3 separate regions of the Homo sapiens genome follow, and all the other regions are linked to region 2. The links come from fine-mapping of genetic effects on gene expression. A gene starts in region 2. Each other region holds a variant in brackets. All regions are shown on one strand. Distances are between the middles of the regions.

What was found. PIP is the estimated chance that this variant, and not a neighbour inherited with it, causes the effect. A credible set is the group of variants that fine-mapping cannot tell apart.
Region 1: its variant is the best candidate, but not a certain one, in a credible set for the expression of PGGT1B in prostate (GTEx, PIP 0.83).
Region 3: its variant is the best candidate, but not a certain one, in a credible set for the expression of PGGT1B in esophagus mucosa (GTEx, PIP 0.57).

Annotation. Positions count from the first base shown.
Region 1 is chr5:115,214,862-115,219,221 of GRCh38, forward strand. PGGT1B (protein geranylgeranyltransferase type I subunit beta) reads right to left here. Exons shown (of 9, transcript NM_005023.4): 8 at 2,004-2,112. Among named protein-coding and RNA genes, the nearest start is that of PGGT1B, 46 kb to the right of the region's middle. The variant T/C (reference allele first, on the strand shown) is at 1,792.
Region 2 is chr5:115,261,014-115,265,373 of GRCh38, forward strand. PGGT1B (protein geranylgeranyltransferase type I subunit beta) reads right to left here and starts at 1,864. Exons shown (of 9, transcript NM_005023.4): 1 at 1,699-1,864. The coding sequence starts at 1,838. It also overlaps the pseudogene RPS2P26. RefSeq lists enhancers at 1,723-1,902, 1,933-1,982.
Region 3 is chr5:115,284,163-115,288,162 of GRCh38, forward strand. CCDC112 (coiled-coil domain containing 112) reads right to left here. Exons shown (of 10, transcript NM_001040440.3): 2 at 625-746. Among named protein-coding and RNA genes, the nearest start is that of CCDC112, 10 kb to the right of the region's middle. The variant G/A (reference allele first, on the strand shown) is at 2,196.

The DNA.
Region 1 (4,360 bases), 46 kb before region 2:
AATAATTCTCAGTTTTGAGGCACTAGAGATATCAAAAATTTCAAGATATTATTTTGCTTGAGAAATTAACTTCTGAAGACACACTTTGGCTTACGACTTTGAAAGCAATGTACACTTTCTCTAAGAAGACATGTTTTACTACTGATTGATTGATTGAGACAGAGTCTCGCTCTGTCGCCCAGGCTGGAGTGCAATGGTGAGATCTTGGCTCACTGCAACCTCCACCTCCTGGGTTCAAGCAATTCTCCTGCCTCAGCCTCCTGAGTAGCTGGGACTACAGGTGTGCACCACCATGCCTGGCTATTTTTGTATTTTTGGTAGAGACGGGGTCTCGCCATATTGACCAGGCTGGTCTTCAACTCCTGACTTCAAGTGATTCACCAGCATCAGCCTCCCAAAGCTGGGATTACAGGCGTGAGCCACTGCACCCGGCCATTTATTTTATTTTATTTTTTGAGATGTACTCTTGCTCTGTTGCCCAGGCTGGAGTGCAGTGGTGTGACCTTGGCTCACTGCAACCTCTGCCTCCCAGGTTCAGGCAATTCTTCTGCCCCAGCCTCCCAAGTAGTTGGGATTACAGGCACCCACCACCACGCCTGGCTAATTATTGTATTTTTAGTAGAGGCAATGTTTCACCATGTGGCCAGGCTAGTCTCAAACTCCTTGCCTCAAGTGATCCGCCCACCTCAGCCTCCCAAACTGTTGGGATTACAGGCGTGAGCCAAAACTCCTGGCCTAGGAAGCATGTTTTATATGAAAATATAGGCAAGTAGGGGTGTAAGGAAATATTCCTGCTCATTTCAAATACAAAAATTGATTTCATGAGCTCCTTATTTATATTCTGATTCAATCACACATTCCAACCACAGCAGTTCTGTGATGGAAGATGAGTTGATGAGGCACTTTCCAGGCTGATAATAAAAACCACGACTCTATTGCAATACTGGCAAAAACAATCATTCCTTGTGTCTAGTTTCATATTTGTAACTAATTCTTTAACTACTTGCTTATCAAAAGTGTCAGTGTTTGAAATTATTTCAAAACACACTTAAATGGATTTTTATAGGGAAGCTGTATATAGACTCATTTTGCTGGAGGTGAAAACATATGTCGGGTGAGGTGTAGGCTGCAGAATGATGCTAGAGGTGGGAGAGGAGCCAAATTTTGGAAGGGCCTTGAGTGCCATGCCATTTATATTGTCTGAATCTGTTGAAATTTGGAGAACAAGAGTATGGGAAGTGAGAAACACATATATTCAGGATTTGAAATATTTTATTTAATGACTTTTTTTTTTGAGACAAAGAGTCTCGCTCTGTCACACAGGCTGGAGGGCAGTGGTGCAATCTCGGCTCACTGGAACCTCTGCTTCCTGGGTTTAAGTGACTCTCCTGCCTCAGACTCCCGCATAGCTGGGACTACAGGCACGCATCACCACACCTGGCTGATTTTTGTATTTTTAGTAGAGTCGGGGTTTCAACACGTTGGCCAGGCTGGTCTTGAACTCCTGACCTCAAGTGATCCACCTGCCTTGACCTCCCAAAGTGTTGGGGTTACAGGCATGAGCCACTGTGCCCGGCCTATTTAATGACTTCTGAAAAGAGTAAGAACTGATTCCCTTCAGGATTGGGAGTAATTTATTATACTTAGTTCAAGTCATGACTAATAATCCTAACGGCTTTGGATGGCCTAAATAATTCTCTTCTTTGGAAAGGACCCATTCAGACCATCTACATTATTGCTGCAAATGAAATAAAACATTACTAAGTAAAATATTTGGGAAAAAATGCACAC[T/C]ATTCCCATGCATCTTGATAATAAACTCTTTCATTTATACTCTCTAATACCCTAAATTTATCCTAAGCTTACACAATATACCTTTTAAAAAATATTATTTAATGTAACTTTGCAACTGGATATATTTTCTATCATATGCCTTTTCTGATAAAGATGCTTGAAGATCTATTCAGGAAATAAAGGTTGTTCTGATTCACAAAGAAAATAATTACCTGGATGACTGTCTGGCCACTTGGCAAATCCCCCTACAAGGCGATCTTGAGTTGATAAGATGTAATTTCTATTTTTCTCAAAGTTAGTGTATTGGAAAATTTTTAGAAGCTGAAATGACATGACAAATAAAAATTTACTGACATAAAACTCATATCAACCTTTGGCTCAAATTTCAGATACGTGTCATTTAGATATGCTTTTCTTTAGCTAAGGTGCTCAGACCAAGTCTCTGGGGCCTTGAGCACTTTTGAAATGAGTAAATCACATTAACTTTTTAATTTTCTTATCAAATCTACTCTCCTTTTCTCGACTCTCTATTTCCTTCTTCTGAACCAGGCCAACTGAACCCTTTAAATCACATTAAGCTAAATTCAAAAGACAACTCGAATCCACTCAACATAATCAGTCATTTTAAAAAGTACAATTTTATCTACCCATATTTTAACTCTTATGATAAGCTCTTGAGCTATTAGTTATAAACTAGTAGTAACTGGAATTAAAAATATTTTTTAAAAAAAGAGCAAACAAAAATTACTAACCAGATGCTACAGACAGTTTTGAAAATAGTAAAAAAGTATAGCTCTTTAATTAGGAAAGAAAAAGGTAAGACAAAAATGATTGCAACATAAAAAACTATATAGTTTTTAATGATTTAGGACATGTACTTGGCTTTTCTCTCAAGACCCCATAAAAGTAAAATACAAATAAATAAATAATACTGTGAAGTTCAAGATGAGGTGCACAGTAGGTAAGAGGGTTCAAGACATTTCTGATGATACAAAGCAATTTAATATATGTTAATGAACCAGAGAGAGCCACAGCTTTTAGTGACTAATGAAGAAGCATTATTTCTCAAAAAGAAAAGCTAAACTCATAAGAAAGTTATGGTACAAACAGGAAACAAATTTATTCATTTACATTGATTTAATTAATAAAATATAAGGAAAAAGACTTTTTTGAATCTTGATGTTAGGAATATTTTCCATCAGTGGCACACTGGTCATTACATAAAAATGAAAAAATTATAATAGTAACACTGCACTTGGCTTAGCAATAAACAATATTTTCACTATCCCATAATAAGTGTTGATTACTGGTTTTTAAATTTTAGAATCAACCTATAGGCAAAGGCTGAAAGATGTGATTATTAATATTGAACAAATATATGAATGTGTCCTAACTTAACATTATAAAAATAAAGGTAACCTTATATAGCATTGGAAGGTAGAAGATGAGGAAAATATTCAGAACTAACTATAACGGGTAACAATTTGTTGGAAAAGTGAGAGGCTAAATCTTAATTTCTCATAGTTGGGAATCATCAATAATGTCTAAAGGTGATAAGAAGTCAGTCTGTGATTTAAAGTTATGGTAATGTCCACAAGAATTAAAACATTTTTAAAAAGTTTAAAAGTGGTTGCCTTCAGAAAGCTGTCAAAGACTACTGACGTCAAATAAAAAAGACTTGGGACAACTTGAAAGGGTTCTTATAGACTAAAGATAGGACAATTTAAGCATTATATGTGTGTGTGTATATATATATATATATGTCATATATAACTAATATATATTATATATAATATATGACTAAAAAATGTTAAAATCTATGTGTTCACAATGATTCTCAAAAAAAAAAAAAAAAAACCCAAACTCTAAAATCTAATATTTTATTGGAAAGGCTGAGGGGATGGTAGGGAACCAACTCATTTTGTTGAACACTATTAAGGGAAAGAATTCAGTATTTATCTGTCCTTCTCTGTACAAAGTATATCTCAGGGTAAGGTAAAATTCTTCTTTAAAAAACAATGCTAGTTAATAAATTGAGAAGGAATGAAAGAATACCACTGTTTTGTAACCTCTTAATGCCATAATTGATTTAAGCAATGATCCTTAATGCCTGTTAAAACTATTCCATAAAAAGTTGGTAGTTACTATAGACTAGCAATGAACAATCCAAAAGGAAATTAAGAAAGCAATTTCATTTACAAGAGCATCTGAAATGATTAAATACTGAGAATTTAATCTTAACAAAAAGGTGAAAGATTTGTATGTTGAAAACTACAAAACATTGCTGAAAGAAATTGAAGACCACCTATATAAATGGAAAAGCATCCTGTGCTCATGGATAGGAACACTCAACAGTGTCAAGATATCACTACTACCCAAAGGGATCTACAGATTCAATGCAATTCCCATCAAAATTTCAAAAGACTTTTTTGCAGAAATGGGAAAGTCAATTACCAGATTCATATCAAATTGCAAGGGGCTCCAAATAGCCAAAACAATCTTGAAAAAGAAAAGTTGGAAGTCTCAAACTTCTTGACTTTGAAACTTACTACAAAGCTACAGTAATTAA
Region 2 (4,360 bases):
GCTCACAGGACTTATACACTGCATCTATCTAAGCAGTGTATGTATACGATAAATATGCACATTATGTATCAATAACAAAAACAGGATGGAAGACTTTTTATCTAAAAGCTTTGAATTCACATAAAATTAATCCCTATTAAGATATAAACAATTTATCAACATTTTAAAACATCTCATATCACTACAATCATAACCTTTCGGTTTGGAAATCTGAATCTTTCAGTGAAGGTATAGGCTCTGCTAATCGATCAACACCTATGAGAGGAGGAAGGAATATAAACGTTTCACTCTTTCTTTTGTGAGAATCTGTTCATCCTTCAGGGCTCAGCTCACATTATTCAACAAATATTTCTTAGTGCTTCTCAGATACCAGGTACTATTTAAGGTCCTAGTGCAATGTTGACCAAAAGGACTAAGCTGTTGCAAATGTTGAAATAGAAACAATTGCCACTGGCCAATATGGCAACTGGGTACTTGAAATGTGGTGGCTACTACCAAAAGAATCACTTAATTTTTAATTTGATTTAATTAATTCAAATCAAAATAGCCAAATGTGGCTAGTGGCTACCAGATTGGACAGGGCAGCCCAGTCCTAAGTATAGAGGTAAACAAGATAGACGAAAATGTTACCTTTGTGAAGTTTATAATCCAGTGTAATAGAAAGACATTAAACAAATAAACCAATACATACGTAATGTGAGGTGGTCATTGGAAGTGGTCCCTTTAGGAAGGGTGTTTAAGGAAGGCCTCTCTAAAGATATCTGGATTATGTACATGCCTGTCTATATACTCCTATGAACACTACACTAACATATAGCACAGAACTCTATACAAATGCTTGTCTTGTTCAGCTGTACTCTGGCACCTACCATAATGTGGTTCTTGACCAAGTGTGCAGAAGTAATCTGCAAAGCTCCCCAAACTGATCCGGTCATGCAGTGTTCAAAATACACCAGCAACTCAGAATTTGGAAAACGTGGGGAAAGAACACAGCAAAAACAAGCCGCTCTTTCCTCCCATCCAGTCTCAAGCAGCTTTTGAGCTTCACTTCAAAACACAGCAATGCGGAGCAAAGATTGCCTTCTCCTTTCTTTCTTCTCATCCCCAGCTTTTACTGTAAATGAAGTCGCTTAGTCTCTGCCGCACCACACTCTTCAGCTATTGCGATACTTTTAACAGGCTGCTTCACGCAACACCACACCTCTTTCGCCTACCATTAGATTTATAGTTCCCACAAAGTTTCTAAGACCTTAGAGGTTCTCTGCCGCTCCTACACATAAAACACCATACAGACACTCTATTAAGAGTTAATGACTTTAGAGAGGACAAGGATGCACAGAAGTATTCATCTAAAAATACGACGACAAACTTTGTCCTTTTCCTTTTACACTCGGAAGTAATGAGGCAAAGTGACAGGCTATGGGAGCGGGTAAAAAAGCAGCTCAGAGTTGCCAGAAGAAAAGGGAAGTGAAAAAGCCGGAAACTGGAGATGCCACAGCCCTCGACCTACAGCCTTCCAGACCTTCCCACCGTACGGCGGGAGAGTGGGGGTAACCTCAAGCCCACTTGAAACCAGTCAGTGCCAACTGGGCGGCCGCGCAGCCCCCTTCCGGCGCCCAGTTTGCGGTCCGACTCCGCCGCGCCTTTCCGCTGGAGCCCGGGCCTTGTGCCAGCCTGGCTGACTGTGCCACGAGTTACCTGCTTGTCTCGAGTGAAGAATAGCGCTCCGGCAAAACCTGGAGGCAGCGCTGGAAAAATCGCACGTGCCGATCCCGTAAGAAATCCAGCCGCTCTCCCTCACCGCTCCCTGCTAGCCTCTCATCCTCAGTGGCCGCCATGCTGCTCCGGAAGCGACGTCCGCCGCGACCCGGAATCAGTGCCCGCGGAGAGAAAGAACCCTCCTGTGCTGAACCACAGGGTGCCGGGTGAGGGGACCTGCGCCCGCCGCAGACTAAGCCAGTATTTGAAACCGCTATCATCTGGGTCCTGTGCAGCACTTCCTCTCTCCGATATCTCCCTAGCTAGCGCATGACCCTACCTTTTCTACTCAAAGCCCTCGAGGCTTGTAAACACCTCGCAGGCCTTGTGAAAATCAAGTCCACAAATCCCTCCGTCAGAATTTTTATCTTGGGAAGCGCAAGGTCAAAAGCATCAAGTACGCTTTGAGACAATTCTGGCTCTGTAGAACCTGAGGATGGTATATCTGAAAACGAGGATGGATCAGTATAAACTTGCTAACAGATTCATTTTTGGAGGGCCAGTTTTAAGCCGAACGGTTAGGGAAACAGAAAAACAAACCAGTGGAGATAAATGTTTATTGACACTACAAAAGCTCAGAGACTTTCCTAATCTTAATCCTTTCTGGATACCAGGAATCACTTAAAAATCTGTGTATAATGCCCCCAAACATATACAACATGCATATTCATACCTATATATGACTGCTTGCGTCATTCTTTTACAAATCTTACAGATTTTACTTTGCTTGAGTCGACGTGTTATCAAGAATCAATGGTGCATCAATCTGCAACAGCAAAATAAGCTCAATATCTTCTCCAATTACCTGCATTCTAAAAAATTTAAACATGCTTCTAGTTCTTTTTTCCAAAAATAGGGATTTAAGTTGTTTAGCCGGTATACTATGCCCTTTAAACTTTCATGAGGCATTCCTGAGTAGCGGGTGGGGGGATCCACCCAATAATATAACTAAACTAGGTTCCCTGTGATCAACTTAGCTAATAAAATTTTGGGTTTAATTTTGTTAGCTTTCTTAGAAAATGTAATTCTTATACTCTATGGGCTGGGGTAATCTTACACTTATTCAACAATCCAAAGTGCTCTGAATAATTTTTGGTACTATTAACTACTTATTCACAGGTATTCCTGCATGTCTTTACAAAATGCCGCATTTAACAGCCACAGACGGATTCTAGGCTGTCCTCGGTACTTCCCTACAAATACGGAGCTCACAGTCCTTGCCCTTCAGGTGTGCCCAGTCTGGAGTTTCCACTGTTATTAAAATTAAGATCTCTCACTTAGCACACATACCCCCAAATGCCTGAAGATTTTTAAAGTGGAGTCTTATACACATTTAACTTACTGGAATCAGCTATGGACACTCTATACATTCTCAGAAAATTAATTCTAATAAACATGGCCCTTAAGTTAGGGAAGCCAAATGTTTCATCTGATTCTCAGCTCAAGGACTAGCAATCTGATCCAAATCTAGAGGAAAAATTTGCAATGTGGGACTCATTCAGAGATAATACAGAATGCCTCCTAGGTCGGTAAAAGGCTTTCCATGAGTGATTTTATCCCTACAAGATTTTTGGCATGTGCATAACAGAATGGGAATGATAGAACATCTATATAATTGAGTGTTATTTAGCCATTACATGATAATGTTTGAATTAGGTAGAAATGTACGAAAATGTGTAATGCAATTATAGCATAGTAATTAATATGTACTGTATGACTGTAACAATTTAAAAATATGTAGGTATGTTTTTTGAAAAAGTTACCCTGGAATTATGGGTACTTTATAACATTTCTTCTTTAGTGTTTTTTCTATGTTTCTTATTAATGTAGTTTTTTTGTTTCCAGGCTTACTTCATTTTATTTTTCTTGTACAACCCGATGTTGTAGCCACCGCTGGAGCCTGGGTCCTCTGCACGGAGACTCTGGTGTGGGTCTTGAGGAGGTGGTCAGTGAATTCCTGATAGGGAGACTTGGTGAATACAGTCTCCTTCCAGAGGTCAGGGTTCAGCCTGCTGTAGACCTTAGAGATGGCATAAAAAATGACCATGACGAAGTTGCCCAGGATGGCAGTGCAGCCCCTGGCTGAGGTGTAGCAGTCATTGATAGCTGCCATCAGCAGCAGCTTCTTGGCCATGGGGGCCGAGACGATGCCAGTGCTCCTGGGCGCAGGGATGACCCGCGCCAGCACAGAGCCGTGGCAGCCTGTCACCTTGCAAGGGATGGTGTGGGGCTTGCCGATCTTGTTCCCCCAGTAGCCTCTGCGCATGGGCACAACGGAGAGCTTGGCCAGGATGATGGCCCCGCAGATGGCAGTGGCCACCTCCTTGGAGCACTTAACACCCAGATCAGTGTGGCCACTGTCCCTGATGGCAACAAACGCCTTGAACCTGGTGTTCTGGCCGGTGCAGGTCTGCTTCTGCACTGGCACGTCTTCAAAACCTCCTTCTTGAGAGAGGCCCCAGGAAAAAGTCAATGATCACAGACTCCTTGATGGGCAGAGAGAAGAGATAGATCTACTCCAGGGACTTAATCTTCATGTCCTTGACCAGGCAGCCCAGCTTGGTGACAACCATCTACTCCTTGTCCTTGGTCTTGCCTCCAC
Region 3 (4,000 bases), 23 kb after region 2:
TGAGATCACACCCACATATTCAAATAGGCTTGGTGGTGAACATCACTGGTTAGTAAGAAGAACAATGGCTTTCAGAGTGGCTGGAGCCAGCCTAAGAGTCCCTCAAACACCATTTATTAACCATGTAACCTATGGAAAGATGTTTATCCTCTATGATCCTCAACATCCTCATTTGTAAAACAGGAAGAAGAGCAATTTAAATATATGATGTTCGTCATTTATAAAACATTATAAAACACTTTCATATACACATAATAAAAAAACACAAAAACGATTCACTTCCTCAAAAACATTTACCAGGCATTTAGTTATAAAGTGAAAATAGATTAAGTCTGTTATTCGTTATATAAAATCTAAAGAAACAGCTATTTTTTTTCCCTTGAAATACACAGATTCAAAATTGTAAAAATAAAGAAAATTGAAATAACTCTATTTACAATTAACTTTATATTGAACAGCCTATTATTTCATACCTCCCATCTTTCTCTTGTTATATTTGACAGGCTAGTGATTACAATTTTATAACTTAATGTGAGCCTAGGTAGGGTAGAGTAGAATTAATTTTTTATTGTCCATTATAAAATGGCTAGTAATGTTATTTGAAGATTATATTCTTATACTTACTGATTTTTAAATTTTTCTGCTGTGCGTACAAATTCTGCTTTCTTAGTCTGATTAACTTTCTGCTTCCAGTTCTGAAGATGAAAAGGACGAATTCCACCTGAAGTACTAAAACAGCCATCACTCTGCATTGAGAACAAGAAAAACTTAACAGTAATGAAAATAGTAAGACATAAATGTGGAATTTTTTCAGAGAGATAAAATGTCAATAGTTGAGTTTCTTGAAGGATAATTTTGGGGCCAATCTCACTTAACTCTTAAAAGTACATTTGTGGAAGAAGGAGTATCTATCAAATGAAGGAATATCTATCTTAAAATGCTAAACTGAGTAAGAAATGTTAAATATCCAGGGATTATTTGCAAAATGATCTAATTCATTCAGTCGGTCATTTAACAAATATGTATTGAACACTATGAAGTGACACGGGCTACATTAGACACTAGGAAAACAATGATGATCTATAATAATATGGTCCCTGTCTGAAGGTCTAGTGAGGAAAAACAGATTTAAAGAGATAAGAGTAAACAAGCAATAAAATGAAAACTCCACCAGCTGCAATAAATGCTATTAAGAAAATAAATATTAGGGCTCAGATGGAGAAAGCGGAGAAAGGGTTTCAGTTACAGTGGTCACAGAAGGTCTATTTGAAGGGATGACTTTAAGGAAGATTGAAGCCAGCCATGACAGGAGCAGTAGGAAAGTGTGTTCTAAGCAAAGGGATCCACATGTGCAAAAGCCCTAGAGCATGAAAGACTTTGCTGAGTTCAAGCAGAGAAAGGCCAATTGTGTCATGAGATTAGTAACGGTGTGGATCTTGGTAGGAAAATGAAAGTAGAGAGGCAGGTATGTGCCAGATCATACAGATATTTTAGGTCACTTAGGGGGTCTGGATTTTATTGAAGAGTTTTGAGCAGGGAAATGCCATGATACATTTAACTCTTTAAGAACAATTTTCTGGCTATTTTTTTGGAGAGGAAATTGATGGGAGGTGTGGGGGTGGAGTGAGGCAAGACTGGAAGCAGGAGATCAATGAGGTACTTAGTACAGCTATAGAGACAAGGAATGACAGTGTCCAGGACTACTGGGCTGACAGAAAATAAAAGAAGACTCAATGTATTTTGGAGGTATCACCCAGAGGGATTGCTGAGCAATAAAAATGGGTTGTGGGGGATGAGGGGAAAAGGAAACAAGGCTTCAAATTTCCAGGAGCAAAAAAGAACAAAGTATTAAATCTAAATCTAGGAAATATATTTTAAGTCAAAATGTAATTCACAGACCATAAAATATGTCTGTTTGAAGTGTACAATTCAGTGGTTTTTAGTGTATTCACAAAGTTTTGTAACCATCATGACTACCCAGTTTCAGAATATTTTCATCATACCAAAAAGAAACCTCATACCTATTAGAGGTCACTCCCCATTCCCCTTCCTCCCAGCTCCTGGCAACCATTAATCTACTTTCTGACTCTATGGATTTGCATATTCTGGAGAATTTATATAAATGGGCTCATACAATGTGTAGCCTTGTCTGACTTCTTTCACTTCACATGATGTTTTCAAGATTCATCCGTGTT[G/A]TACCATGAATCAATACTCCATTCCTTCTTACAGCTGAATAATACTCCATTATATGGGTCTACCACATTTTCTTTATCTACTCATCAGTCATTAGCTGATGGACAATTGGGGTGTTTCCATTATTTGGCCAAATTAATCTGAACATTTGTGTACATGTTTTAATGTGAATGCATGTTTTCAATTCTCTTCATTATATACCTAGCAGCAGAATTTCTGGATCATAAAGTAACTATTTTTTTTTACTTTCCCATTTTGAAAAATTGGGTGGCATAGTGGGGCCTGGTGGCTCATGCCTCTAATTCTAGCACTTTGGGAGGCCAAGGTGGGAGAATAGCTTGAGCTCAGGAGTTTGAGACCAGCCTGGGAAACATAGCAAGATCCTGTCTGTATAAAAACTTAAAAAAAAATTAGCCAGGCATGGTGGTGTGAGGCCACCAGGAGGCCACCTCAGGAGGCTGAGGTGGGAGGATCACTTGAGTCCAGGAGATTAAGGCTGCAGTAAGCCATAACCACACAACTGCACTCCAGCCTTGGGGGACAGAGCAACACACTGTCTCAACAACAACAACAACAAAGGATTGCCCTTTTATTGTTGAGCTGGAAGCATTCTTTATATACTGGATGTAAAAGTCCCTTATTAGACATACGACTTGTAAATATATCCCCCCATTCTCTGAGTTGTCTTTTCACTTTCTTGATAATGCCTTCGAAGCCCCAAAATTTTAAACTTTTTAAAGAATTGCCAGACTGTTTTCCACAGTGGCAGCACCATTTTACATTCCCACCAGCAATGTATAGGGGTTTCAATTTCTCCACAGGCTCACCAATAACTGTTATCGTCTGTCTTTTTTATTACAGTCATCTTAATGGGTATGAAGTGATTTCTCACAGTGGTTCTGATTAGTCCATAATGACTAATGATGTTGAGCATTTTTTTCATGTGCTTGCTTATTGGCCACTTCTTTTAAGGAATGTCTACTTAAATCCTTTCCCTTTTTAAAAATTTGGCTGTCTATTTATTGTTGAATTGTAACAGTTATTTATGCTACTCAACTTTTATGGGAGGCTATTGTTTTGAACAGAGCTCCTGCAGTAGGCCCCAAAAGACCAGACAAAATAAAAATGGAGTTACTCATGCTAAGTGCCACATGATCAAAATGAAACTTTGAGGAAAGAGGTAGATTTCCCCAACTGACCAATTTTTCCTGAAAACAAGAGATGCACGGCAACCAATCAGAAAGGGTCCAGTCAACCTGAGCCCGAGTAATAAGAAAAGCCTCTCTGCTTTTACCTTCATAAGTTACCCGAAGTAAACAGATGTTAACCAATCCCCTTTCCTTTTTTTTTTTTTTTTTTTTTTTAATTAAAGTGGTGAGGGTCTTCTTATGTTGCCCAGGTTGGACTCCTGGGCTCAAATGATCCTCTCATCTCAGCCTCCTGAGTAGCTGAGACTACAGGCACATGCTACTGTGCTCAACTCCAATCTGCTTTTTTCTTTTATTTTTCTTTTTGCTTCAAAATATTATTTAATAATTGAGATTTTATTGGTTGTGTTGAAAATCAGTACACACACATTTCAATTTGCACACAATTTTTAACACAGGTACCAAAAATCTAAAATGCCTTTTTTTTTCCCCCCGAGACGGAGTTTTGCTCTTGTCATCCAGGCTGGAGTACATTGGTACCATATTGGCTCGCTGCAACCTCTGCCTCCCGAGTTCAAGCAATTCTCCTGCCTCAGCCTCCCGAGTAGCTGGGATTACAGGCACCCACCACCACGCCCAGCTAATTTTTGTATTTTTAG